Linked DNA regions of Homo sapiens. The protein of the gene in region 2 purifies or fractionates together with the protein of the main gene of each other region. This does not show direct contact. Each region holds a gene or a part of one and is shown on either strand. Other genes may lie near its edges.

Evidence for each region.
Region 1: the proteins of GOT1 (region 2) and EVPL purify together in Homo sapiens (affinity purification with mass spectrometry; one large-scale study listed by BioGRID and IntAct). This does not show direct contact.
Region 3: the proteins of GOT1 (region 2) and C11orf54 fractionate together in Homo sapiens (co-fractionation; one large-scale study listed by BioGRID). This does not show direct contact.
Region 4: the proteins of GOT1 (region 2) and RAB25 purify together in Homo sapiens (affinity purification with mass spectrometry; one large-scale study listed by BioGRID and IntAct). This does not show direct contact.
Region 5: the proteins of GOT1 (region 2) and RBBP9 purify together in Homo sapiens (affinity purification with mass spectrometry; one large-scale study listed by BioGRID and IntAct). This does not show direct contact.
Region 6: the proteins of GOT1 (region 2) and ENDOU purify together in Homo sapiens (affinity purification with mass spectrometry; one large-scale study listed by BioGRID and IntAct). This does not show direct contact.
Region 7: the proteins of GOT1 (region 2) and CRYBG1 purify together in Homo sapiens (affinity purification with mass spectrometry; one large-scale study listed by BioGRID and IntAct). This does not show direct contact.

The regions. Positions count from the first base shown.
Region 1 is NC_000017.11:76,013,769-76,017,611, forward strand, and holds part of EVPL (envoplakin), read right to left. Parts: intron 1,861-3,843; coding exon 1,682-1,860; intron 1,598-1,681; coding exon 1,459-1,597; intron 1,342-1,458; coding exon 1,148-1,341; intron 809-1,147; coding exon 658-808; intron 1-657. UniProt on the Homo sapiens protein: Component of the cornified envelope of keratinocytes. May link the cornified envelope to desmosomes and intermediate filaments.
Region 2 is NC_000010.11:99,399,577-99,403,419, forward strand, and holds part of GOT1 (aspartate aminotransferase, cytoplasmic), read right to left. Parts: intron 3,147-3,843; coding exon 3,004-3,146; intron 1-3,003. UniProt on the Homo sapiens protein: Biosynthesis of L-glutamate from L-aspartate or L-cysteine. Important regulator of levels of glutamate, the major excitatory neurotransmitter of the vertebrate central nervous system. Acts as a scavenger of glutamate in brain neuroprotection.
Region 3 is NC_000011.10:93,747,935-93,751,777, reverse strand, and holds part of C11orf54 (ester hydrolase C11orf54), read right to left. Parts: intron 1,433-3,843; coding exon 1,334-1,432; intron 1-1,333. UniProt on the Homo sapiens protein: Exhibits ester hydrolase activity on the substrate p-nitrophenyl acetate, in vitro. Regulates DNA damage and repair by regulating HIF1A degradation via chaperone-mediated autophagy (CMA).
Region 4 is NC_000001.11:156,059,816-156,063,959, forward strand, and holds the start of RAB25 (ras-related protein Rab-25 precursor), read left to right. Parts: upstream 1-1,344; 5' UTR 1,345-1,585; coding exon 1,586-1,628; intron 1,629-4,144. UniProt on the Homo sapiens protein: The small GTPases Rab are key regulators of intracellular membrane trafficking, from the formation of transport vesicles to their fusion with membranes.
Region 5 is NC_000020.11:18,494,239-18,498,636, forward strand, and holds the start of RBBP9 (serine hydrolase RBBP9), read right to left. Parts: upstream 2,988-4,398; 5' UTR 2,930-2,987; coding exon 2,831-2,929; intron 1,643-2,830; coding exon 1,600-1,642; intron 1-1,599.
Region 6 is NC_000012.12:47,722,449-47,726,817, forward strand, and holds the start of ENDOU (uridylate-specific endoribonuclease isoform 1 precursor), read right to left. Parts: upstream 3,043-4,369; 5' UTR 2,966-3,042; coding exon 2,911-2,965; intron 1-2,910. UniProt on the Homo sapiens protein: Endoribonuclease that cleaves single-stranded RNAs at 5' of uridylates and releases a product with a 2',3'-cyclic phosphate at the 3'-end. The UU and GU sites are more efficiently cleaved than CU and AU sites. Targets mRNAs to regulate their expression.
Region 7 is NC_000006.12:106,566,610-106,569,852, reverse strand, and holds part of CRYBG1 (beta/gamma crystallin domain-containing protein 1), read right to left. Parts: intron 1,382-3,243; coding exon 1,287-1,381; 3' UTR 1-1,286. UniProt on the Homo sapiens protein: May function as suppressor of malignant melanoma. It may exert its effects through interactions with the cytoskeleton.

The DNA.
Region 1 (3,843 bases), on a different chromosome or scaffold from region 2:
TAGTCATTCTCTACATGGCAGCCAGAGCCAGCTTCTAAACACTGGCCTGGAAGCATCCCCTCCCCAGCAGCTTCTGGGGGCTGCAGGAGAGAGTGCAGCCTGGGTCCTGTGCCGGAAGGGCCTGTGTGGTCTGCCCATCTGGTCGCCCTCGCCCCTGAGTCCCCCTCCTTTCCCCTGACTGCCATGCCTTCTGCATGGGACATTTCATCCCTCCCCCGGCTACACTTGCTTCCTCCCACACTACCGATCCTGACCCGCAAGTGTGTCCAGCCTGGGGGCACCCACAGCACTCCAGCTTCTCCCACCAATGCTTGTCGGCATCACAGACCTCCCCCACCAGGCTGGGAGCTGCCAGGGTGCAGGGTTGTACCCCAGTGAACACATTGCCTGGTACATGGCAGGGGCTTGATGAGCATGAGAAAGTGGCCGGAACCCTCAGGGCTCTGTGGCCTGAGCTTGTAAATCCCACTGCCCCAGTCGGGCCAGACAGAGATGGGCTGGCCCCGTCTGTGGGCAAAGAGGAGCATTTCAGCTGGAGGCCAGGGAAGGGGCCCAGGGCCTCCGTGGCCTGGGCTTTGAAGCCCCTTAGAGCGCTTCTGAGCTTTGGCCACTAGGGGGCCACATGGGCACAGGCAGCTGTCCCTGCCCCAGCCTCACCTTCTGCGCCTGCAGCTTGTAGGCGATCTGGCTGGGGCCGTCGCTGGGCCGCACCTGGCTGCGGGGCAGGTGCTCCAGCCAGGAGCTCAGGTTATCCTTGCAGTTCTTGAACTGCTGGTAGGTGAGGGCGGCATCCTGCACCACCTTCTCCCTGCAGGAGGACGAGGCCCAGAACAGAGATAAGACCTGCCCCGTGGGGACAGGGGCAGGTGCACAGGGAGGCTGATGGGAGCCTCCTCCTGGGGGCAGGTCAGGAGGCCCGAGTGGCCTGCTGTGCAGATCCCCACTCCCTGACCCTGGGAATTCAGAGATGGGACAGTCTCTACCAGGCACCACCCTGGGAGGTAAGTGCTGTTGTTATCCCATTTTAGAGATGAGGAAACAGCTTCAGAGACGTGAAGTCACTAGCCCAGGATCACACAGCTTGTAGACAGCAATGCCTGGCTCTGCACCAGCCCACACCCTGTGCCCCGAGGACCCAGTCGCTCACCGCAGGTCCAGCTGGTCCCCTACGGCGTGGTAGCGGTCGGTGAGGGCTCGCACCTGGCGCTGCTGGCGAGGCAGGTCTTGGCAGAACTCCTGGAAGTTGTTCTGCAGGGCAGCGCATGCGTGCTCCGAGGCCTTCAGCGCGCGGTGTAGCCGCAGCACGCAGGTCTGCTGTTCCAGCAGCTCCCTCCGCTGGCGCTGCAGGAGGAGGGGACGCAGCCGTGCACCCTCGTGGCTGGGGAGACGCCGTGTCCACCCACCCGCCCCTGAATGCTGGGTTCCCCTGACACCAGGAGGCCCCGGCTGGTCCCTTACCTGCAGCTCGCTGACCCTCTCCTGCAGAGCCCCCGGTTCAGCAGGGATGGGGGCCTCCTGCACCAGGGTGGCCTCGAAGCCTCGGATGACCCTGTCCGCATCCTGGATCTGCCGCTCCAGATCCAGGGCAGCCTTGGCTCTGCCGCAGAGGAGGCAAGGCTCAGACACTCCCTGGGCCACACGCTGCTGCCCTGCGTGGCTGCCCTGTCCCCAGAGCACTCACTTCTCCCCGTAGAGGCTGCACAGAACCTGCACGTCACTGAACTTGTTCTTCACGCTGTTGAGGGCTACGGGCAGCTGCAGGGCAGCGGGGCCCACGGGCCGCGTGGACAGAAACGCCTCGCACTCCTTCTGGGCTGTCTCCTTCTCCGTTCCCAGGCTCTGCAGGCGCTGGGCTGTGCCCTAAAGAGGGGCGGGGTCAGGGATCTCTGGGCAGGTGGGTTCCGCCCGACTCTTCTACCAGGATACCCTAACTCTGCGCCCATGGAGGCAGTAGAGTGTGGTGGGTACATGCTTGGGCTCAGGCCAGAGAACTGCGTTCAGTCCTGGCGCTACTCGTTCCTCTGTGGATGACCTGGGGCAGAGCAAACTGTCTGACCCTCAGTCTCCTCATCTACAAAATGACTGATAGGAGGGGCCGGGCGCAGTGGCTCACACCTGTAATCCTAGCACTTTGGGAGGCCAAGGCGGGTGGGTTGCTTGAGGTCAGGAGATCGAGACCAGCCTGGCCAACATGGCGAAACCCTGTCTCTACTAAAAATACAAAAATTAGCCGGCCGTAGCAGCGCGCACCTGCAATCCCAGCTACCCAGGAGGCTGAGGCAGGAGAATTGCTTGAACCCCAGGAGGTGGGGGTTGCAGCAAGCTGAGATCACACCGCTGCACTCCAGCCTGGCAGACAAGAGCAAGACTCCATCTCAAAAAAATAAAATAAATAAAAAAGAATGATTGATGGGAGGATGACACAAGAGCCTGTGTCCTGAGCTCAGCAGTGAGCGCCAGGCACAGTTACCTACAGTCATCTTCATGTCACTGTCCTGCTCACAAGACCATCAGGTCCCCTGGCCCTGTCGCTCCAGCCAAAGCCCTGGCTCTGCCCACTAGGGACTGTTGCCCTCATTCTTTCATCAGTTATTCACTCATCTGCCTGGTCCATCACCGAGCAGTGCTGACTCTGCACCAGGCACCACCCACCGCCCAGTCTAACTGGGCTTCTCCTGGACCCCAACACCGCTGATGTGGCAGATGCTATGACTTCAAAACCTAAGGACCCAGCTTCTTGGGAGGTGAAGACAGGGGGATTGTTTGAGACCAGGAGGTTGAGGCTACAGTGAGCCTTGATCATGCCACTGGCCCTCCAGCCTGGGCAACAAAGCAAGACCCCGTCTCAAAATAATAATAATATGGCCAAGTGCAGTAGCTCATGCCTGTAATCCTAGCACTTTGGGAGGCCAATGCGGGAGGATCGCTTGAGCTCAGGAGTTTGAGACCAGCCTGGGCAACATGGCAAAACCCCATCTCTACCAAAAAAATTAGCTGGGCTCAGTGTTGTACCTGTGGTCCCAACTACTCGGGAGGCTGAGGTGGGAGGATCACTCAAGCCTGGGAGGTGGAGGTTGCAGTGAGCTGAGATTATACCATTGCACACCACTGCACTCCAGCCTGGGTGACAAAGTGAGACCCCATCTCATAAAACAAAAAACAGACCAGGTGCGGTGGCTCACGCCTGTAATCCCAGCACTCTGGGAGGCCGAGATGGGTGGATCACTTAAGGTCAGGAGTTCGACATCAGCCTGGCCAACATGGTGAAACCCCATCTCTACTAAAAATACAAAAATTAGTTGGGCATGGTGGTGTGTGCCTGTAATCCCAGCTACTCCGGAGGTTGAGGCAGGAGAATTGCTTGAACCTGGGAGGCAGAAGTTGCAGTGAGCCAAGATCGTGCCACTGCACTCCAGCCTGGGTGATGCAGAGAGACTTTGTCTCAAGAAAAGAAAAGAAACTGGTTTGGAAGGATAACCCAGACTGCGGCCCGGTGTGGGTTTCACTCTGAGCACTTTTGGGAGTGTTGAGTCCACGTGCTGTTCTTGGGTAAGGAGTTTACACAATGCTGCAACCTCCCCAGGTAGGCTCCCCCTTGCAGCCAGGGGACATCTCTTCCTAAGATTCTCCAGGCTTCCTTGCTATTTCAGGAGCTTCACCAGAATACCTCCTGGGGTGTTGACATTGGGCCCTACTGGAACCTTCCTGAATGATCAGGCGAGCTGGGCATTATTACATCTGCTTCAGGGATGAGGAAACCAAGGCCCAGAGAGTTATGTAGTCCAAGATCCTGGAGCTGGTCAGTGGAGGAGCCAGGAGGGGAACCAGCTTGTCTGAGCCCGG
Region 2 (3,843 bases):
CCTGGGCATCATAAGGAGACCCTGTCTCTACAAAAAAATCTTAAAAATTAGCCGGGCATGGTGGCACACACCTGTGGTCCCAGGTACTACGAAGGCTGAGGTGGGTGGATTGCTTGGGCCTGGGAGGTTGAGGCTACAGTAAGCCATGATTGTGACGCCGCACTCCAGCCTGGGCAACAGAGTGAGACTCTGACTCAAAAATAAATAAATAAATTTGTATGCCTTTTCTCCTATTAATCTGCCTCTTGTCAGCTGATTTCCAGCAAACTTTCAGAGGGCAAAGGGTAAGTTTTCCCTTGACCCCTCCAAACCAGTGAACAAAGAAAGCAAGCTTAAGAAGAGGTTTACCTGTGTGAATTGGTCACCCAAGGGGATAGAGCCTCAAGCCAACACAGCCCTGGGTGTGCCACTCTTTCTAAAAGCCTGTGCCCTGAGGCAGTGATTAAATGACTCCTACCCTGGCTTTTGGTTTTGTTTTAGTAAAAATGAGGCCTTTCTACTTTTTCAGAGAAGGGAAGTGTCACAGTTTGAAAAGCTAGTAAAAGTTATGGACTCTTTCCCTAGAGCAGGGCCAAAATACACATATACAATTTTTTAAACATCATTTCAGGGGCTTCACAGTTCTCCTAAACGTACATCCAGGGATTCCAGGTTAAAAGCCCCATTCTGACAGAAAAAAGATAACAAAGGAAGTATTGTAATGTGAGAATTGTAGAAACTAGGTGGCGGATATATAGGGGTTCACTGTACAATTCCTCCAACTTTTCTGTATGTTTAAAACTTTTCTGGCCAGGTGCAGTGGCTCATGCCTGTAATCCCAGCACCTTGGGAGACCGAGGCGGGCAGATCACTTGAGCTCAGGAGTTTGAGACCAGCCTGAGCAATATGGTGAGACCCCGTTTCTACAAAAAATTAGCCGGGCATGGTGGTTCACGCCTGTGGTCCCAGCCACTTGGACACTGAGGTGGAATGATCACCTGAGCCCAGGGGGCAGAAGTTGCAGTGGCCCGAGATTGCACCGCTGTACTCCACCCTGGGTGACAGAGCGAGACCGTGTCTGAAACAAACAAACAAACAAAAAAGGCCAGGCACAGTGGCTCACGCCTGTAATCCCAGCACTGTGGGAGGCCAAGGCAGGTAGATCACTTAAGGTCAGGAGTTTGAGACCAGCCTGGTCAACATGGTGAAACCCTGTCTCTACTAAAAATACAAAAATTAGCTGGGTGTGGTGGCTCATGCCTGTAGTCCCAGCTACTTGAGAGGCTGAGGCAGGAGAATCGCTTGAATCCAGGAGGTGGAGGTTGCAGTGAGCCAAGATTGTGCCACTGCACTCCAGCCTGAGCAACAGAGCAAGACTCTGTCTCAAAAAGAAAAAAAAAGTTGGGAGGAAAACAAAACCCCTGTTTTTAATAAGGGCAAATGATGCCAAGCGCTAAAAATATAACTTTTGTGTTATAAGCACAGTTCTATTCTCATCATTTTTCCAATTCGTGATATTAATAAAACTAATTTCCTCCTGTGGATAATGGGAAGATATGGATATTTTACAGGGAGACATTCCCATATTGTGAGCTTTTAGACTATTACTACTAAAGACTATTAATATTTCTGTTACATGTAATATTTTTATAATTGTGAGTGAACTAATTCTCTGTTCCTCAGTCAAGAGGACATCTACAGCTAACTGAGCTATTTCTTTACTTTCTTAGGTAGCTTCATTTTACCCCAAAGTATTTTGAGGGGTCCACAATACAAGCTCTATTAACTGCCATTTATATTTATTTCCTTTGGATTTTTCTGAGCCCACTTCACACTGGCACTGTGATGGCCCCAGTTAAATACCTCCCCACGGCCTCTGCCGTTCTGCCTACAAACCAAGCCAGCCACACATCCCTCCCTAGAGTCACTGGGACACACAGGTGAGTCGCCACATCTGCACTGTGGGAATTACTAAAGAAATGACGCCTGTAATCTCAGCTACTCGGGAGGCTGAGGCAGGAGAATAACCTGAAGCCGGGAGGCGGAGGTTGCAGTGAGTCGAGATCACACCACTGCACTCCAGCCTGGGCAACAGAGCAAGACTCCATCTCAAAAAAAAAAAGAAGAAATGACTCTTCTGTCATCAGATGGGACTGCAGATGGCAGATGTGCCCTACTGACAATTGACCAAGACCATGCATGACCACCTACTAGATTTTCAATCAGCTTTTAATTCCAACCACCAATCTAGGTTCTTTTCTTTTTTTTTTGAGACGGAGTCTCGCTCTGTCGCCCAGGCTGGAGTGCAGTGGTGCGGTCTCGACTCACTGCAAGCTCTGCCTCCTGGATTCAAGTGATTCTCCTGCCTCAGTCTCCCTAGTAGCTGGGACTACAGGCGCCTGCCACCACGCCCGGCTAATTTTTTTGTATTTTTAATAGACACGGGGTTTCACCATGTTAGCCAGGATGGTCTTGATCTCCTGATCTCGTGATCTGCCCACCTCAGCCTCCCAAAGTGTTGGGATTACAGGTGTGAGCCACTGTGCCCAGCCCAATCTAGGTTCTTGTTTATGAAATGCAGAGATAACTTTGTAATCTCTTTTTGAGGATAATACCTAGAAATAAGAAAGACCTGTCAAGAAATCAGTTCCCTGAATAATCATTATATTCAGGATTAAGGCAAACCCAAAATGTACCTGAGCATTTATAAGAACCTTTCATAAATTAAGGCTCCCAGCTACCAATCCTGTTACCTCCCAGCTGGCTCTGAGCCACTTCCCAGCCCACAAACACGGAAATATCTTGGCTGTGGGTCAGCAGGGCAGACCACAATACTCTTCTGAGACCCAGAGAGTTTATGAGATGGTGGGACACCCTAAGAAAACCTAACTTGTCCTGGTCCAAAGCAATGGCTGCCCAATTAGGCAAAGGCTGTGAAAGTGAGCTCAGCTCAAGGCGAGCGACTGAAAGGAATGTTGTGTGTCTACATGCACGCATGGGCTGGAGGTGGTGGGGGCCACTTACGGTTCAACCCAGTGAAGCTGAACATGCCAATTTGATCAGTGATGTGGTTCCAGGTCCCAGGGGTTTTGAGGGCTTCTAGTCGTGCCCTGAGTTCAGATCTCATGGTCAGAATCCGGTCAGCCATTGTCTTCACATTACCTGTCCTGAAGCATGGACAGTGACGTAAATACCAATCCAGACAGGAAAGATGGTACCCGAAAACACACAGGTTTAAAAACTCTAATTTAAACGACAGCTGACAATGGGATCATAACCTGCCTATTATGGCATGTGGATGTCTGGATGGGTGGATTAACATACCAGAGAGAGAGACTTAGGGGGCAGAAGGAAAGGACTGCATTTACTAGTGAGTCTAGTGCTAGTCTTGGGTATACTGGCTAGAATACACTCACATTTCAACTCAGGCTTCACCGAGGTGCTGCTATAGATATTAATAGGGCAATATGTTTCATCAGGACTTACTAAATAAAGATTGCAGATTTAGCTACTATATAAAAATTACTGTTCTAAAATAAGATAAAGTGTATGTAAATTACAGATAAAAACCAAGAGCTCCCAAACTGTTAAACTGCCTAGACGTTCGATATTCTATTTTGCTGGGAATACCTTCTTGGGTTTTCCAACTTCATGGAGAGGAAGACTGGGTGGGGGGGGAAATTGGGGAAAACTACCATTCATCGAGTGCCCCCTCCTGTCTTCCAGGTGTTGTGTTATGCACGTGTGAGGTAGATATCAGCCCCTGTTTTACAAATATCTGAGAGTCAAAGAAGTTAAAGTAATTTTATCCTGCTTCTGCCAAAATGAAAGGAAGAGACCCAGTTAAATGTACTGGGACAATTA
Region 3 (3,843 bases), on a different chromosome or scaffold from region 2:
ACCTTTATTTAATTTTAGTTAATTACTTAATTAGCAGGGGAAATACATTACACTCATATTTTTAAAAAAATCAAGGCTGGGCGTGGTGGCTCACGCCTGTAATCTCAGCACTTTGGAAGGCCGAGGTGGGCGGATCACGAGGTCAGGAGATCGAGACCATCCTGGCTAACACGGTGAAACCCTGTCTCTACTAAAAATACAAAAAATTAGCCAGGCGTGGTGGCACATGCCTGTAGTCTCAGCTACTCAGGAGGCTGAGGCTGGAGAATCGCTTGAACCTGGGAGGCAGAGGTTGCAGTGAGCTGAGATTGCGCCACTGAACTCCAGCCTGGTGACAGAGTGAGACTCTGTCTCAAAAAAAAAAAAAAAAAAAAAAAACTATAAAAAAGTACTATGCTAAATCCTTTGAAGAAGCTAAAAGAAATTGCCACATGGTACACAAGCCTTCTAGAATTTACAGCTCTACTTAAAATCAAAGATTGTTTAAGCTGTAAAGGCCCCCAAAAAACATTCAATTCAAATCCCCTCATGCTAATGTTATCTCAAAGTCAGGTTTGTTCTAAGACAGAACTAGAGTCCAGAATTTCTATGGCAAACTCCTTTTTAGCAAAGATGTTAATTACATAATAAAAAGAACACTTTGAGTGTTTATCCTCAAATTCCTCATCATAATAGGGTATAACAGGAGGGGGTTAGACTTTGGAAACAGACTTGCATTTGAATCCTGGTTATGATTTACACTGAGCTTATCTAGCCTCTCTCGTTTTCAGTTTTCTCATCTATAAACAAGGGCTACTACTTACCTTGTGGTGTTATTGTAAAAACTGAAACATCAACTAACTATCTATCATACTGACAAATTATTTTATTCTTCTAATACTAATTTCCCTTCCTTCTCACTTCAAACAGTGGATGCTCACTTGGCAAATTTGTTGAAGGATTAGTTTTAACAGATCATTCAAATACAAGGCTTTTAGGATCCCTTCTGGTCTTGAATAAATAAAATCATAAAAATTAAAATCAGTTTCCATAACAGTCTGAGCAATTAAAAGCAAAACTCTCGTGTGATACAAAGAATTCTAACCTATTGGATATCTATTCTACAATCTGTGAAGGTTACATAAGTGAATAAAACACAATCCTTTTCCACAAGAGTATGAAATGAAATTTAACCAATATCAGAAGAGTGAGCACAGAAATTTGGCACAATTTAGCCTAAATGTTGTGACAATATCCTTTATTTGTAGATAATTTAAGATGTCCTTAAAAATAATTCTAGTTTCAGAAAAAGATTATGACTAAAAAACAAAAGCTAATTGCAAAAATTGCTTACCTTTTACAGGAAAGGTAAAGGGTTCCTTAGTCAAATCAGGGCAATCAACTACAGAGACCTGGACATCAGCAAAGTTATCTTTTAACCCCTTCTGCATAACTAATAAAGACAAGGAATAAGATTATTTAACATTAGGTAAAAACTTGGCTACCACGTATCAAAAGTGGTATGTGGCTCTCAACACACTCCCAATCTCAACTTGTATAATAAAAAAGAAGGGGGAAATGGTCTTATTAATGAATATAATTAGACATTAGACATAATCACAAGATACAACGTAGACTAAGATATATAAATACTTCCTCTACAGTGATTTTCAACTGTTGAAGATAAACAGCCTGCACTTGTGTGAGGGTGAGGATTACCTTCTTTTTTGAGAGAAGATTCCAAAAACCAACTGAAATGCAAACATTTAAACTTTTTAAAAAGTAAGCAATCACATGTAACAACTTCAGTGAAGGTAACAGACAATATGTTGAACAAAGCAGCCAGACACAAAACACTACATACAATATTACTTCACCTTATGCATCTCAGAAACAGGCAATGGATCAAGGCTGACTGGGAAGGTGTGCAAAGGAGCCTTCTGGGATGTTGGAAATATTTTACATTTTGATCTGGATAGTAGTTACATAGGTGTAACTATTGTTAACATTCATCAAGCTGTACACTCAAGATTAGCATACTTTACTGTAGATAGTTATACCTCAGTAACAATGTAAAAAAGCATAGGTGTCTCAAAGTTATTAATGTAAGACCAATGTATTTCCCTCTCTCTTTTTTTCTTTTATATGTAGAGACCAGGTCTTGCTATATTGCCCAGGCTGGTCTCGAACTCCTGGACTCATGTGATCTTCCTGCCTTGGGTCCCCCAAAGTGCTGGGATTACAATGAGCCATCACACCTAGCCTCAACAGTTTTTTTTTTTTTTTTTTTTTTTGAGACAGAGTCTCACTCTGATAGCCTTACCTACCCTGTCGCCCAGACTGGAGTGCAGTGGTATGCAGCATGATCTTGGCTCACTCAGCCTTGATCTCCAGGCTCAAGTAATCCTCCCACCTCAAACTCCCCAGTAGCTGGGACTACAGGTGGATGCCACCATGATTGGCTAATTTTTGTATTTTCTGTAAAAATGGGGTTTTGGCTTGTTGCCCAGGTGGCTCTCAAACTCCTGGGCTTAAGAGATCTGCTCACCTTGGCCTCCCAAAATGCTGGAATTATAGGCATGAGCCACTGCATCAGCCTATGTACTTTTAAGGATCAAAAGTTCTTACAAAATGTCTTTTTTTTTTTTTTTTTTTGAGATGGAGTCTCACCCTGTCACCCAGGCTGGAGTACAATGGCGCAATCTCGGCTTACTGCAACCTCTGCTTCCCAGGTTCACGCCATTCTCCTGCCTCAGCCTCCCGAGTAGCTGGGGTTACAGGCGCCCGCCACCACACCCAGCTATTTTTTCTATTTTTAGTAGAGACAGGGTTTCACCATGTTGGCCAGGCTGGTCTTGAACTCCTGACCTCGTGATCTGCCTGCCTCAGCCTCCCAAAGTGCCGGGATTACAGGCATGAGCCACCGCACCTTGCCAATTTCTTTCTTTCTTTTTTTTTTTTTTGAGACTGAGTCTCGTGTTGTTGCCCAGGTCGAAGTACAGTGGCGCGATCTTGGCTCAACGTAACTTCTGCCTCCCAGGTTCAAGTGATTCTTGTAGCTCAGACTCCTGAATAGCGGGAATTACTGGCACACACCACCACACTCAGCTAATTTTTGTATTTTTAGTAGAGATGGGGTTTTGCCATGTTGGCCAGGCTGGTCTTGAACTCCTGACCTCAAGTGATCTGTCCACCTTGGCCTCCTAAAGTATTGAGATTACAGGCATGAGCCACTGTGCCAGGCCATAAAATTTCTACTTTTTCTGAATATATCCTGCACATATAGAAGGAAAATAGAAACAAACACAAAAGTGAAAACAGATTCTAGAAAAGCAATCAAAGAAAAAATCTGGCCAAGCATGGTGGCTCATGCCTGTAATCCCAACACTTTGGGTGGCCGAGGCAGGAGCATCGAGTGAGGCCAGGAGTTCAAGAGCATCCTGGGCAACAGAGCAAGATCCTATGTCTACAAAAAGAAAAAAGAAAAAGAAAAAATTCCTAACTGCCCTGTCATATTAGGGAAGACAGACTGATGAAAAAGAAATACAGGCCAAACAATACAGATTGTTTATTAGCTACCATTCAATTAGGGAAAAAAAAAAAGATTATAAGAGGAAAGTTACAACAAAGCAAAAATGAGTCTATTTCTTAACTTCAATCTTATCAGGATGACAAATGAACTACCAGAACATCACATTTTGAGAAACAAGCGAAGGTTCTATAGTTACCATTAGAACAGAACCTAGAGGTTGTTAAATAAAGGTTAGTATTCTGACAGACTTTACAGTTTTGGATAACAACTATTCCTGGCTTCATTTTTGTACTCGTTTTTGTTTTCCTTTTTTTGACTATCTTCCCTCCTAA
Region 4 (4,144 bases), on a different chromosome or scaffold from region 2:
ATGGCACAATCTTGGCTCACTGCAATCTCCGCCTCCCGAGTTCAAGCAATTCTCCTGCCTCAGCCTCCTGAGTAGCTGGGATTACAGGCGCGTGACACCATGCCTAGCTAATTTTTGTATATTTTTAGTAGAGACAGGGTTTCACCATGTTGGTAAGGCTGGTCTTGAACTCCTGACCTCGTGATCCGCTGGCCTCGGCCTCCTAAAGTGCTGGGATTACAGGTGGGAGCCACCGCACCAGGCCTCTTTTTTTTTTTGAGACGGAGTCTTGCTCTGTCGCCCAGGCTGGAGTGCAGTGGCGCGATCTCGGCTCACTGCAAGCTCTGCCTCCTGGGTTCACGCCATTCTCCTGCCTCAGTCTCCCGAGTAGCTGGGACTACAGGCACCTGCCACTACGCCTGGCTAATTTTTTGTATTTTTAGTAGAGACACAGTTTCACCGTTTCTACCATAGAGCCAGAGAGGGCCCCCTCCTGTTTTTTTATCTCTTACCAAGACCTCCTGGGGCTCCTCATTCCTTCAGGATGGTCTCGATCTCCTGACCTTGTGATCCGCCCGCCTCGGCCTCCCAAAGTGCTGGAATTACAGGTATGAGCCACCGCACCCGGCCTTTTTTTTTTTTTTTTGAGAAGCAGTCTCTGTTGCCCAGACTGGAGTGCAGTGGCACGATCTCAGCCCACTGGAACCTCTGCCTCCCGGCTTCAAGCAATTCTCCTACCTTGGCCGCCCAAGTAGCTGGGATTGCAGGCGCCCACCACCATGCCCAGCTAATTTTTTTTTTTTTTTTTTTTAGACGGAGTTTCGCTCTTGTTACCCAGGCTGGAGTGCAAGGGCGCGATCTCGACTCACCACAACCTCCGCCTCCTGGGTTCAAGCGATTCTCCTGTCTCAGCCTCCCAAGTAGCTGGGTTTACAGCCATGTGCCACCACGCCCAGCTAATTTTGTATTTTTTTAGTAGAAACGGGGTTTCTCCATGTTGGTCAGGCTGGTCTCAAACTCCCGACCTCAGGTGATCCGCCCACCTCAGCCTCCCAAAGTGCTGGGATTACAGGCGTGAGCCACCGCGCCTGGCCTCAAGTGGGTTTCTGAGGGGCTATTTCTTGCTCATTAGTTGGGGGACCGGCCCTCACCACAGATTCCAGAAGCCCAGCAATGCACACTCAGCCCTCAGTGGGCTGTCTCTGAAGGTCCTGTCCCTTTTTCGCTTCCCCCCCGCTGGAGCTGCTTCTCCCGCTTGCGGGAGCCCAGGCTGAGAGCAGACACCCAACCTGTCGAACCTGTCTGACGTCATCATCTCTCCACCCACCTGGGCCCCAGGTCTCCAGCCACCCCGCTCTTCCTGTTCTCAGCTTCCGTCCTCTCTGCTTCCTTACAGCACCCCCACCTGCCAGAGCTGATCCTCCCTAGGCCCTGCCTAACCTTGAGTTGGCCCCCAATCCCTCTGGCTGCAGAAGTCCCCTTACCCCCAATGAGAGGAGGGGCAGGACCAGATCTTTTGAGAGCTGAGGGTTGAGGGCATTGAGCCAACACACAGATTTGTCGCCTCTGTCCCCGAAGACACCTGCACCCTCCATGCGGAGCCAAGATGGGGAATGGAACTGAGGAAGATTATAACTTTGTCTTCAAGGGTGAGTTGGGTTCCCTGAAGCAAGAGGAAGCCTGAGAGACCCAGAAAGAGATTGAATAGAGCCAGAGAGGGCCCCCTCCTGTTTTTTTATCTCTTACCAAGACCTCCTGGGGCTCCTCATTCCTTCAGAAAGAAAGCTGCAGGGAGTGGGGGAGGGTCTGGTTGCAGGGGCAAAAGTCAGGGAGCTTCTGAGTATGCTCTACTGTGGTAAATAATGATGTTGATTCCTCCTTAAGAGTGCTGAGTTAGGCTCCTCTGCCCCGTTCCTAATAGAAACCCAAATCCCTGGTGTCAGCCAGTGCAGCACAAGAGATGGAGGTCAGACTTCAGAAAGGACTTCCCTCTTTTATTTTTTTTTCTGAGACGGAGTCTTGCTCTGTCGCCCAGGCTGGAGTGCAGTGGTACAATCTCAGCTCACTGCAACCTCCACCTCCTGGGTTCAAGCGATTCTTCTGCCTCGGCCTCCCAAGTAGCTGGGACTACAAGCACCTGCCACCACGCCCGGCTTATTTTTGTATTTTTAATAGAGACGGGGTTTCACCATATTGGCCAGGATGGTCTGGAACTGACCTCATGATCCGCCTACCTCGGCCTCCCAAAGTGCTGGGATTACAGGCATGAGCCACCACACCCGGCCAGGACTTCTCTCTTGAGAAGAAAGGGAAACCAGCAAACAAGAGGAAGAAAGTCATCTTTTCTGGGCAGGTGTACAGGGAACGAGAGAAAGGAGAGACACATCCCATTATAGGGTGGGGCAATAAATACATAGGGAAGACAGAAAATATCATGAATTTGCTGCAGAGTCTGATAGAATCCAGAGGACTCCTAGGGTTGTAGCCTCGTCTGCCTGGCCCTTGGCTGACTCACTGGACCTGCATACCAGGCACTGGGCTCAACTTTGCTGTCCCTGGAAGCATGCATGTATCTTTCTAGCCCCTGTGTTTGGTGCCTTTGCTGTTTTCCAACCCCACCTTCATACTTCCTTTAGGGCAGGGTGGACTCTCCAGCCACCCTACCCCAATGCCTCTCCCAACCTCAGCCCGGCCCCTCCCTTGAGCTGGGACTCTCACTCCAGAACCCGCCCTTGAGCTGGGGAACCTGTACTACTGGCATCTTTTCCAGGAAGGAAAGGGTTAGCAATAGTCTGGGGCAATAATATGAGGAACTACCATTTATTGAGCACTTACTATGTACCTGCCACTACCTCATTAATACCATAACAATCCCCGAAAGTCATATTTTATTTTGAGGGGCAGTGTAACATTGTGGTCAGGAGCCAGACTGGGTTCAGATCTCAGCCCTGCCACTTACAAGTATTGCGGGTTGGTCAGCCGGGTGCAGTGGCTCACGCCTGTAATCCTAGCACTTTGGGAGGCCGAGGCGGCGGGATCACTTAAGGTCTGGAGTTCCAGACCAGCCTGGCCAACATGGGGAAACCCTGTCTCTACTAAAAATTCAAAAATTATCTGGGTGTGGTGGCACGTGCCTGTAATCCCAGCTACTCGGGAGGCTGAGACAGGAGAATCACTTGAACCCAGGAAGCAGAGGTTGCAGTAAGCCGAGACTGTGCCACTGCACTCCAGCCTGGGCAACAGAGCAAGACTCTGTCTAAAAAAAAAAAAAAAAAAAAAAAAGTATTGAGGGTTGGGTTGGGGTCCCTAGAAGCAGACGCTGAGAAGAAGTTGGGGTGTTCAATGTTTGTTTGTTTTTTGAGACGGAGTCTCGCTCTGTTGCCCAGGCTGGAGTGCAGTGGAGCGATCTTGGCTCACTGCAATCTCCGCCTTCCTACAACCTCCGCCTCCTGGGTTCAAGCGATTCTCCTGCCTCAGCCTCCTGAGTAGCTGGGACTACAGGTGTGCACCACCACACCCAGCTAATTTTTGTATTTTTAGTAGAGACAGGGTTTCATCATGTTGGCTAGGATGGTCTCGATCTCTTGACCTTGTGATCCGCCCTCCTAGGCCTCCCAAAGTGCTGGTATTACAGGCGTGAGCCACCGCGCCCAGCTCAATGTTTTTTTACAAATCAGCACCTGTGAAAGGAAGGGAGAGGAAACATAATTGGGCAGAGGGAGAAGTCAAACAGCAACACAGGCTGGACAAACCTGGGTCAAGGGCGGGGAGCTCTGTGATTGCCTCACCTTGCTTGAGCACTGGGTGTAGGCTGCCCAGAAAAGGCATGACTTCCAGTGAGGCCGCTGTCTGCACCAGAGGCAGACGCTGAAGGAGCTGACAGCTGGAGCCTGTCTGCAGCCTGCACTCCCTGCAGCTTGGGGCAAGTCCTTCCTTGAAGGCTGATCTGGCCAGCACATCTCTGTGTTTACAACACTAGCCCTGTTATCTTGGGCAAGTCATTTGACCTCCAAAGCGCCTTGTCTGTAAAAACAGGTAAAATAGTAATGGGATTCATGGCATTCTTATGAGGATTAAATGAGGTAATATGTGTAAAGCTTTTAACGACACTGCCTGGCACATAGTAAGCATTCAGTACACTGTAAACATGAACCATTAGTATCTC
Region 5 (4,398 bases), on a different chromosome or scaffold from region 2:
AAAGATCCAAGTCCACAGTTTTGGTAACTAGTTTTTCTTTTCTCTTTTTTTTTTTTTTTTTTGGTTTACCATGTTCTTGTAAGAAAATACTAAGGAAATAATAAAATATAACTCTGAAATTTTAATGTAAACTTTCAAACTTGAAAAAAAAAGCTAATGGTCAGGTGCAGTGGTTCACACCTATAATCCCAACACTTTGGGAGGCTGAGGTGGACAGATCATTTGAGGTCAGGAGTTCGAGACCAGCCTGCCCAAATGCTGAAACCCCGTCTCTGCTAAAAATACAAAAAAAATTAGCCAGGCGTGATGGCGCATGCCTGTAATCCCAGCTACTTGGGAGGCTGACACAGGAGAATCACTTGAACCCAGGAGGCAGAGGTTGCAGTGAGCCAACATCACGCCACAGCACTCTGGCCTGGGCAACAGAGCGAGACTCCATCTCAAAAAAAAAAGCAAAAAAACTCTTGCAACATTCTAAAATTCACATTTATTCATTCTTTCCAAAAAGGGGATTCCTGAGACAAGTCATAGGCATACCCAGAACAAAAGTAGCAATATGACATTTTTAAACATTAGGACCTCAAATAGATGCTGTAAAGTTTTATACCTATGCCTCAAGTATAGTACCCACAAATTCTGCCTGAAAATATTTGTAGACATATAGAAGGGAAAAATCAAGTTGGTGCAAAGTTGAAAATTAAATTTTACCATGCCCAGGTGCTTTCCTAATCCTTACTAGAATTTTCTATGGCTTACCCCATCCGGGAGGTGAGGGGCGCCTCTGCCCGGCCGCCCCTACTGGGAAGTGAGGAGCCCCTCTGTCCGGCCACCACCCCGTCTGGGAGGTGTACCCAACAGCTCATTGAGAACGGGCCATGATGACAATGGCAGTTTTGTGGAATAGAAAGGGGGGAAAGGTGGGGAAAAGATTGAGAAATCGGATGGTTGCCGTGTCTGTGTAGAAAGAGGTAGACATGGGAGACTTTTCATTTTGTTCTGTACTAAGAAAAATTCTTCTGCCTTGGGATCCTGTTGATCTGTGACCTTACCCCCAACCCTGTGCTCTCTGAAACATGTGCTGTGTCCACTCAGGGTTAAATGGATTAAGGGCGGTGCAAGATGTGCTTTGTTAAACAGATGCTTGAAGGCAGCATGCTCGTTAAGAGTCATCACCACTCCCTAATCTCAAGTACCCAGGGACGCAAACACTGCGGAAGGCCGCAGGGTCCTCTGCCTAGGAAAACCAGAGACCGTTGTTCACTTGTTTATCTGCTGACCTTCCCTCCACTATTGTCCTGTGACCCTGCCAAATCCCCCTCTGCGAGAAACACCCAAGAATGATCAATAAATAAATAAATAAATAAATAAATAAATAAATAAATAAAAATGACAAATTCACAGAATTGAAAAAAAAAAAAAAAAAAGAATTTTCTATGGCTTTTGGTTCACACCCTCCTCCCCAAGCTGCTTGCCTTATTCTTTCTTAGGTATATAGGCATCTTTGGTTCCTCCACTATGATATTCTTGTTCTCTACCACAAAAATGGTAATATCAAAACCCAACAAGATGAGGCTATTTAAAAACAAGTTTAAAACTTACTTGGGTCGGGCATGTTTTTAGCCAAACACTGGAAACCAGGTATCTATGATATGAGGGGGGAGAAAAAGCTATAATAAAGAGCTTAATTACAACTAATACTTTGCTAATAAGAAATGAGGCACCTGATATGATCGTTACCAATTCAGTATTAACTTGTGTTATGAAATGAAGTAGGTTAAGTGACCATCTTTTCGCATGAACTCCATCTGTAGTTCTGTATCTAGGCAGCTCTGCTGATCTCTATAGAGAGACCTATATCTGCATTTGTACACCCATATTTGCCTCTACAGGCCTGCATCTATAGAGAGGCATGAACAAATGTGTTCTAGACAGACTGACCTGGAGCCAAATAGACTGTGTTCCAGGGAGTAGGTAAAACGTGGCACAGGAACGTGATACAGAAATTTGGAGACAGCATACTCTCAGAAGCTCCAGCCCTGACCTTTGGGGTTGTAACTCTGACCAGGGTTTTCAGCCACAGCGCTGCAATCTATTCTGGAGACCCGCTCTAGAGGACAGCAACCCAGGGAGCCGACTTACCGCCTGGTTACAGAAGAGGGTTAAAAAATAAAAATCAAACGGCACAGGTCAGCCTACAGTAAGATGCCACTTTTATAAAGCTCACCAAGAAGCCAAATAGAACAGTCTGTTGTTTAAAAGGTATATTCATAGGTTGAAAAGTACTTCAATTTTAAAAAGAGAAGCAGATGAAAAAATTCAGGATGGCACGGGACTGAGATGGGTAGACATAAGGGTCGTTTGGAAGATGATGTATAGGCAATGTCCCAGGTTTTAGTTTGGTAATTCATTACATTATGCCTCATAATGTAGACGCATGTTACGTATATCCTTTGTATATATTAAGTATAGCATATTTAATTTTTTAAAAGCTGAAGCGGGAAGCAGTGAACATGTAAAATTATCTGGGAAGTCCCAAATCTGAACCAGCAGCAGATACGGGGGGCGGGGCTCAGGGGCTCAGCCTCGGTAGTTCAAAGGGGTTCCTTTAACTCTAAAGGCTGAGCCCTCAGAGAAGTCTTCCAGGCAGTTTTACCAGTCAAAATTCGACCACTAGCTCAGACTTTAAGAGAAGGCAGCGGGGGAGAGGCAGGAAAACACACAGGGCTTTGCTAGAGGGGATTAGACGCCTATTCAAACTTCAGCCCTCAGTCCTCTCCCGCCGTCCCTCCCTCCAGGCTGACTTCACGGAGCAGCGGCGTTGGGCGCTTACCTTCTCCAGCTCCTTTTTCACCCAGCCATACCAGCCGTGGGTGGTCACATCCCCGCCTCCGTTCCCGGGAACAATCACTGCCTTGCTAGGAGAAGCCATGAGTGCAGCGAGGCCAGAGTTCCCCAGCGCGGGTCCAGCGGAGCTGAGCCCAGCCTGCTCCCGCAGGGAGCCTGCGCCGCGGCATCCTGGGAGTTGTAGTTGCGGGGACCTGGGAGGCCGGGCTCTTTCCTCCTTGGCCTGCCTTCCGCTGGCTGCGTGGGGCAGCCAAGAACAAAGCCTGCGAGCTTCCATCAATTGTAAAGCAAAGCACCCTTTACTTGCCTCTTACTAGTGCTCTCATGTTTTTCCCTTATTTAAGACAGGCTATGACACGGTTGGGGTGTGTTATTTCTTTGCTAGATTTACTGATATTTCTATAGGAAAGTTTGTTTTTGGTTTCAAACATGCAGAAAACCCATTTATAACCTGGGAACGCCTGAAATCCATATTATTTTTCCTTCTGAGTTTAAAACAGTTTTTAGTAGTCAGTATCAGCCCTGGTTGTTGTTTTTCATTGCTTTGAATGAAATTTCCTTGCATAAAGCTACTAACCCAAGTAAAACAAGCAAAAATTTAATTAAATACCAAGAAAATACTTCGTCAGATTTTCATATTAAACCAGCTGATACTGAAATTGTTTAAAATAGTTTATAACCAATGCTTAGTCCCATATTCCTGGGAAGACAAACAAAGCTTCATGTACATTTGGTCACCGGGTGGGCCATTTAAACATTTTGTAAGGGGATTTCATTCAATTGTTATTTGAATTCCAATTTGTCATTCTGGTTGTATAAAAGCTTTCCCATGCAAGAGGGCTGATGTTATAACAGTAGATTATTATGCTACAGTGTATTTTCCCCCGGTAAAGAAAGCTTTTTATGGTTTGAATTTTCTGGAAACATTGGAGAAGACTGTCCTTGTCATCCACACTACAACAAAACTTCAGGACCTTGGGCTTTGGGTTCATGGTCTCGCAAATGAGAACGGTCCCTCCACACTTTTGGAACAGTGCACCCATTGGAACTTTTGAGGTAAAGCTACCCTGGGAAATTTCTCCCAAGAAGAAAATGGCATCCTTGATGTGAACAGCTTTTCCCAAGTTCACAGATTAAGACTTCTACTACCATGAAACTCTTATCTTTCAATATTTTTTGTCTTCCTTATGCCTCTACAAACAATAGAAGTGGAAAAGGGGTCTGTTATGTGCACTTATGGGGTATACTTTTATTTGTGAAGGAGTTTGCAGCCAGCCTTATACATGGATAAACTTAGACTTTGATAGATAAAAGATGAAGGCCCGAAGTAGGTAAGAAACTTTAATGGTACATGCATTGCTTCATAATCAGTCAAAAACAAAACATTGGTTCACTCCTCTAACCCACATCATGGGTTAAAGAAAACATTGCCAGTAGGCCTTCACTCTTCTAGAAAGGCATCATTTGTTAGGTCCTTTTACCATGGTTTGAAGTAAAAGAAGCAATGATTAGAAATGTATCCCTCATTGGCTGGGCGCGGTGGCTTACACCTGT
Region 6 (4,369 bases), on a different chromosome or scaffold from region 2:
CATAGAATATTTGTAAGAATTAAATGAGTTAATATATGTAAAGCACTTAGGACAGCAAGTGACACATAGTAGTACCATAGAAGTATTTGTTAGGTGAATAAACGGTGGCAATATTTCATGCCCATCTTCCAAGTGACAAGTGTTCAGACTGGCTGGAGCAGTCTTCCCTGTGTTGTGGCCCCGTCGACACACTTAATCTAGCTGACACTCTCCCAGGGTTTCAACAGGGCCATCCCTTGGGCTGGGTTGTCAGCACATCTGTGTTGCTGGTTTCCTGGCTGACTTCATCACTACAGGTCTGTATTCTTTACATCAGAGAGGCATTGGGTCAAGGTTAACCCGGGTCCTCAGACAACTTCACATTGTCAGGCCTCCAAGGTGGGCAGGAAGGCAGGTTTCCAGTCCCTAAAAGAGACCAGGCCCAAGGCCACTTGTTCCTTCAAGCCGGCAGGAACTCCTCTTGAATGTTAAATGATGCTCCCTTGGAGCCTGAATGCAAAGACCTTAAGGAGAAATTTTCAGCCCATCAGCTCCCTGCTCAGTCAGCCTGGCAGTACACCCAGAATCCAAAGGGAGAGAATTCAGGCAAATCAGGGCAATGTTTTTAATGGGCCAAATCAGCAGAGTCCAGGGAAAGAATTCACTTCATTCCAGCAGCTGGCACCAGTTGAGAAGGGTTGCAAGCGAGCAGTCAGCTGGACGTGCAGGAGAGCACCCCCGCCGGCCCAAGCTGAGTGGGCTTTTTCATCTCTGCTCAAGAACTTTGTCTCCAGCAAGAGCCCCATGCCAGCACTTTCTCACATTTCTCTGTGCACTTAGTCTGCTTCAAGGTGACCTTGGGATTTGACAGTGGAGTGCAGGGGTGGGAGGAACTTTTCCTCATAGGCACTTTGCTGTGACATTCTGGGGACACTCTGATGAGTAACTAGTCACCCTAACAACTCACTCCAGCATCCCCACACTGCACCATTAACACCAACACTCTGAGTAAGCCTTGCTCCCCAAGCCAGGTGCCTGAATCACTGCTGTAGTAACCTGTGCCTCTTGTTCCTCTGCCTCACCTCTCTGACTCTCTGCCTTTCTTCATCTGAGCCTTTCCTCTCTCGGGTTCAGATTCTCCCTCCATTCCCCCAAGAAATGCTCAATTTCTCTGCACTTTCTAAGACTTCAATATGCCAGAACAGCCACTCCCTATCCATACTGGCCATCAAGGAAGCTTGGTCCCAAGCCTGGGTGGACACAGTGTCCCTGTACACTGGTGCTCAGCCCCTCTGATGACTGGGACATCCTACACATCTGTACCGTTAGAAGGCCCCAGATGCTGTTTCCATGGAGACCTAGTCAACCAAGAAGCCTCACCCCTTGGACTAGCTTCCTGCCTCCATTCACAACCAAAAAAATCAACCAAGGTTCTCCACAGACATCCAGCTCATAAAGGAGGACCTGAGGCTGTCAGTGATTCCCCATGTGATTCATATTCTTGCCTCTCAGTTCTGAGATGTTGGGATAGTATCAACAAGTGCAGAGCCTCTTCCCTGCCACCTTAGGAAGCCTCATACACTTGACCTCACTTCCCCATCGATCCCACAGCCAAAGCAGATACTGCCCTCCGACCTAGCAGCAAGAGCTCCACCTGCACTTCTAAAGCCACTGCTACCTCTGCCCCCCAGGGACCAAATATCCAGAGTTGCTCTCCTTCCCTAAGGCTGGAATATGCCAAGCCCGCTGGCCACCCCTACACATTAAGCCCCCAAGTTCCACCTTCCTCCCAACCAACAGGGCTGAGGCTGGTGGCTCCCAGGCCCACCCTCATGCTCTCCCACTGCCTCTCCACCCACTAGGGCCCAGGCAGAGCTGGTTTCTGGTAAGATGCACTATCTCATCCATGGTTGGGAGGCACAACTTCCTCTTCCAGGGGTTTTCCACTTAGAAATCCCATAAGGGTCTCCTTTCCACAACCCAGTTGGAAATGACCCCAAGCGGAAGTTTCTCCCAAGAAAATTTATAGTCATAATCATAGCGAATTTCCAGTTCACTGAGATCTCACTTTGCACCAGGTGCTTCTCATACATTATTTCATTTAATCCTTTCCACAGTCCTACACAGGAGCAACCCAGTGGAAGGATTCTTTCTCCTGTGGGCAGAGGAGGATTCTCCCCACACTCCTCAGCTCAGCCCCTCCCTTGGCACTCCTTCCCACCCACCCACTAGCTACCAATTAACCCATCAGCACCAGCATTTTGCACAGTTACTAAACAGGAACATGGTCCTGTTCCTCTGCCAGTCCCATCCCCTGGACCTCTCATAACTGTGGGCCAGGTCCCTTCTGTATTCTTCAATTCTCCTAACACTGCAACAGAGATCCATTCCTCTGACCCCTGTACAGCCCCAGATAGGACGAGGCCCACCTCCTGGTCAAAGGTCCTTTCAGTTTCCTCCTAAGCCTGCCCACCTCCTAAGGCTCTACCCAAAGTAACATCACACCCTAAACAACCTCACCTGTCACCAGGCAGTGGAAGGAGTGACCAAGGGCAGCCAGGCCACTCAGACCCCATGGACACCAGCCCTAGCTTTATTCCTTACAGTGGCCCCAGACAACAAAATCTTGGGGAGATCAAAAGTCAGGCTGGACTAAGGGATATTTGGGGCTGATCCTCCAAGGTGTCAAGAAGGGAATTCCATGAAATCAGACCATCAGCCCTGCAACTCTCTCCACATAGTCCAGTCCATTCCGGGACCAACGCCTGCACCCTCAGACAAGGACAACCCAAAAGTGCTCTGCGGCTTTAGGACAGAGCTCACCCTCCCTTGTCCCACGGCCCTGCCCTCTACCAAGTTCTCCAACTCTCTGCTTCTTTAGGCAAGATCCCGCCCCACCAGCAATCCCATGCCCGCCAGATAGTGACTTACCAGCCCAGGCCAGGCCACACAGCACGGCCAATACCAGGGAGATGCAGGCCCTCATGGTGCCCAGTTGGAGGCCAAAAAGGGAGTGGCTGTTGGACTTTCACTAGAGTCAGATGAATGTCACAGCTCTCAGACGAGCCTTATTCCTCAAGCTGATCCTTTTAAAGACACCAGGACTTGTGGAGCTGGTGTCTCCAGATCCTTTCAGGAAGAAAAAGGGGAGGGAGGGACCCTAGATGGATAGGAGGTGGGGCCCTACAGCTGTTTGAAGCCTGAGGGAAGGTGACTAAGAAGGTAGGTAATGCCAGATGTTGAGAACAGGTAATGCTAGCTGTTTGCAGCTTAAAAAATAGGTCATGCAGGCAGGCACACCAAGATGGGTCCAGTTTGGAGGGTTCTTTGTCCAAATTAGGGACACCCATGGGCTGATCTTTGGGTGATCCCCACCAAACAGACACCTACTTCCAAGTCTCAGACCTGACTTTCCAAGGGGCCACAGGTTGGATTCATCTTCAAATTCCTGGAGCTTAGCATGACACTGGCACACAGTAAGGTGATTGGTCCAAATTTGACAAACAGTAAGTGCCCAAGCAAGGGTTGGGGTCATTGGACAGAGAGATAGAGGATGTGTCGGTCAGAACCAGTGCTATTCTTATGACCACCAAGCCCAGCATAGCTAAATCAGCCACATGTCGAGCGCATGGCTAAATCACTCTAAAATATTATGCAAATGACTCTTACTGAGTCAGCCTCTGGGGTTTAAACGTTTCAGATTCCTTATGAGGCAGGGGAGGGGCAAGAGGCCTCTTAAAGGCAGCCGAAGGCCCACTCTTCTTCCCCTGGGAGCCCAGGGTTTCACTCCCTTCACCCCAACTTACACTCCTCTCCTCAGGAACTCCTCCCCAGTGAGGTTCTTTTGTTTCCAAGTCCAAAAGAAGGGGAGCAGCTCCCCGTGACTGTCCAGTTTTCCCCGATAATAAAGGTAAAATCTGCCAAGTATGATGCCCTTGCCAGAAAGAGCACTGCATGGGGATTCTCAACCCTCTCAGGAAAGAAAACTATCATATAAAAAGGCAAAATTGGTGAACAGTGGAGGCCACTCTATCAGTGATTTTTTTCTGGAGGTTGGGAGTGGAGCACGTCTTCATCCAGTGTGCTTTAACAGGAGAAGTTTCTTCCTCTCGCTGGTCTTCAGCTTTCTCATCTGAAATGATGGGGTTGGATCTGACAATCCCTTCCAGGTTCTCAGACTTTAATCTCGAGTTTTCCTGCCCATGCGCCAGGTTGAACAGTTGCTGGTGGGTTAAAGAGAATCCCCCAGCCTGTTGCTGTGTAGAGAGGAGTCCAAACATAGGGACTCAGGGGTAGAGAGAAGGACAAGCCTAGGGCAAGCAAACTTTGCAAGGGGCTCACACAGGAAGTGCAATGTATGTATATATTTTGAGATGGAATCTCTCTCTCT
Region 7 (3,243 bases), on a different chromosome or scaffold from region 2:
ACCTCGTTTAGTGGCTATAGTGCCCCCAAGACCTGAGGCTGTCCACCAACAGCTATACCCTGAAGCATGGCTGCAGAACACTGCAGGGAAGGCAGCCCCATGCAGGCCATGTGTGGATGCAGGTGGATAGGAGGACAAGAAATTAGGCTAAAAAATCTGAGTTTAGCAAAAAAGTATGTAACATTGCTTCAGCACTTGTAGATGAGTAAGGATGGCTCATAAATTAGGTCATAATAGTGTTCCAGTAGCAGCTATAAGAAAGGCATTAAACAACCCTCATTTGTGACATTCTAGGGCAGCCCATGGATGAGTTAAAATAATTCAAATCCTGGCTGGGCGCAGTGGCTCAGGCCTGTAATCCCAGCATTTTGGGAGGCCGAGGCGAGTGAATTGCTTGAGCCCAGAGGTTCGAGATCAGCCTGGGCAACGTGATGAAACCCCATCTCTACAAAAAAAAAACAAAATTTGGCTGGGCTTGGTGATGTGTGCCTATAGTCCCAGCTACTTGGGAGGCTGAGGTGGGAGGATCACCTGAGCCTGGGGAGGTAGAGGCTGCAGTGAGCCGTGATTGTGCCACTGCACTCCAGCCTGAGATCCTGTCTCAAAAAATAATAACTCAAATCCTACTAACAAATGTTACCAGACTTTGACATTAAATTTTTAAAATGTATTAATTTTTAATATGAACTAAAGGAAAATAGTATTTTGTTTAGAGTTCCTTAAATGTGTGAATACCTAAGGCTTTCCCATTGTGCTATGCAGCATATTTAAAGGTTCCAGAAAGTGTTTAAGGCCAAGAACCAAAATTACAGGCCTAATAAAGTATTTCTTCTCAGATGCTAAACAGTTCTCTACCTTTCAAACTTAAGCCTTTGTCTTACCCTTTAAAGTGTAAGGGCTTTGTAGGTCCACAAAGTTGGTAAATTTGTTCCAGTTCTCTCCTGTCACTATCTTTGGAAATAATTTAAAATGTACACAGTCTTGAAATCTTGATATAACATTTTACAAAATCACCCAAAAGCTGCTAATTAGGCAACCTGTTTAAGCAGCTACCAAAAATGAAAGGCAAGAAATGAAAGGAGGACAAATTATTGGTTTAAAGCTATGATAGTCTTTTGAAACGATGAGTAAGTTCTCTGAGTCATGGCAGCATGATTTAAGGTTGAATTTAGAATCAATGAAGGAGGAGTCGATCCACTTTCCAGTCTGGTCTTCCATCAGCATTGTCCTTTTTAAGAAATAAGGTGGCTGGAAGGACCTCCAGAAGATTCTTCTTCCTTCTTTGTTCAGGTATATAGGACCATGGCTTCCCACACTTGTGTAAACTTCTCTTTGCTGACAGTGTTGAGGATAATGTGATTTTGATCATACTGTGTGCCCCCTAAAAGAAAGGAAAATAATAAAAGATGAATGTACCCATGGTGAAGGGTCTATAGCAGACACAATTCCCCTAACACCAGTACAGCAAAAGTAAGCAAGTAAACAAGGTGTAGAACTGCATGCCTCAAGGAGGCAAGGCAGGGAGGGAAGCCTGGGCCCCTGTGGGATGAGAGGGTCAACCTGCCATGGGTGAATCTGTCCAGATCCCACCATTGGGGCACCAGCACCTTCACACAGGACATCCCACCTCACGGGCTCCTTTTTCTACCCAGTTCTTAAGAGCTAGTCCACAGTCACTCTTACAATGTCTGAAATTCAAGGGAACTGGGAAAACCCGAGAGAAGGGAAAAGGAGTAAAGAGACTAACATATATTTGGTGGTGAGATGGTAGATTCGAGACACCAGCGAGGAAAGAGCAGGTAGTCCTGGCAGTGGTGGAAAGGTGGGAGGAATGGTTATCGAGGAACAGCACTTGCATGAACAATGAAAACGGGCTGTATTAGGTCAAAGGGGAGGTTTGGATGACACCCGGAAGTACATAAGGGGACGCGGTAGCATTGTCACTACTGGGGACTCAGTTGGTGGATAAAATTTCATAGCATTTAGGATGCTGAGTACCACAGTATTGTAAAACTATTATCATGAACTCTCTCCCTGTTACCAGAATGTTTGTAAGATTTTCCAAAGGTGCTTACTGGATGTTTCAGATACTTTAGTGCTAAAAACAGCCTCATGGCTTCTTTCTTTGGAGAAGTATCATTAACAAAAGGGTTATCTGATTTTTTTTTTTCCAGTGTAGAATAAAGATCCCTTCAGATGGCTTATCCTTTTTTTAGCATAAACCTCAGCACCAAGGATGTATCAACAAAGACCCCATCAAAGTAAAAATCTGTGCATTTTGATGCAGGGAGTGACTGGTATTGAAAGCATGCTTCCTCCTTGGATCAAGAAGAAATAAACATTCTTTTCACCTTTGAAGCATTTACAAAATATGAAAAAGGTTTGGGAATTTACACAATAAATCTAGGTATTATAGTTGAGGAAGGAAATCGTCTCTTCTCTTGTGAGACACTGATTTATCATCATTGGTAATCTACAGCCTCTACACAGCTAGATGTATGGCTAGATGTACTATAGAATACAAGGGTAAGGTGTTTTGGGCCTTTATGTGTAAGTTTGTAGCAGTAGGGAAAAAACTACCAGCAAACCCTACACTCTGCCGAGACAGAGACACACAGCATACTCCACTGAAATTTCAGGAAGTATTAAAGTCACAATGTCTCTTTTCATTCTTCATTATAGTATGTTAAAATACTTTTTGTATTTTAAGAGTATCTTTTGTATTTTAAAAGTAAAGTATCTTAAAATACTTTCATATAAATTCAACTAGAATCATGAAAACTAGAAAGTTCTTGAGAAATAATTTGATTCATTCTCTTGCCTTTGGAGAGTGTTTAAATTGTGCAGACTTCATGTTTTTTAAAGTGAACATGAATCAGCTTCCACTGTTGTTACAAGGTATGTGGTCTGGAATAATACATGAATGTCTACCAAAAGAACTCATTTCCCAAACACAAGAAGATGAGCTAGAAGACAGATGCATGATCTAATAATTCTTAGGGCAATTTTAATAGATAACAAATGGTTCAGTAGTTGTAGCTAATGGAAATCATGGTCTGCTAGTAAGTGCACCAACGAGAAGAGACGTGTTTATATTTTCCTTTGCATGGGGTGTGGGACGTGCGGCGCTGCTCTCTCATGTCCACAAGATGGCACCATTCTCCCAGTCTGAGAAAATTAAATTCAGTTTAACAAGGAATTAAAACTGTTGTAGCTAGCCGGGCGTGGTGGCAGGCACCTGTA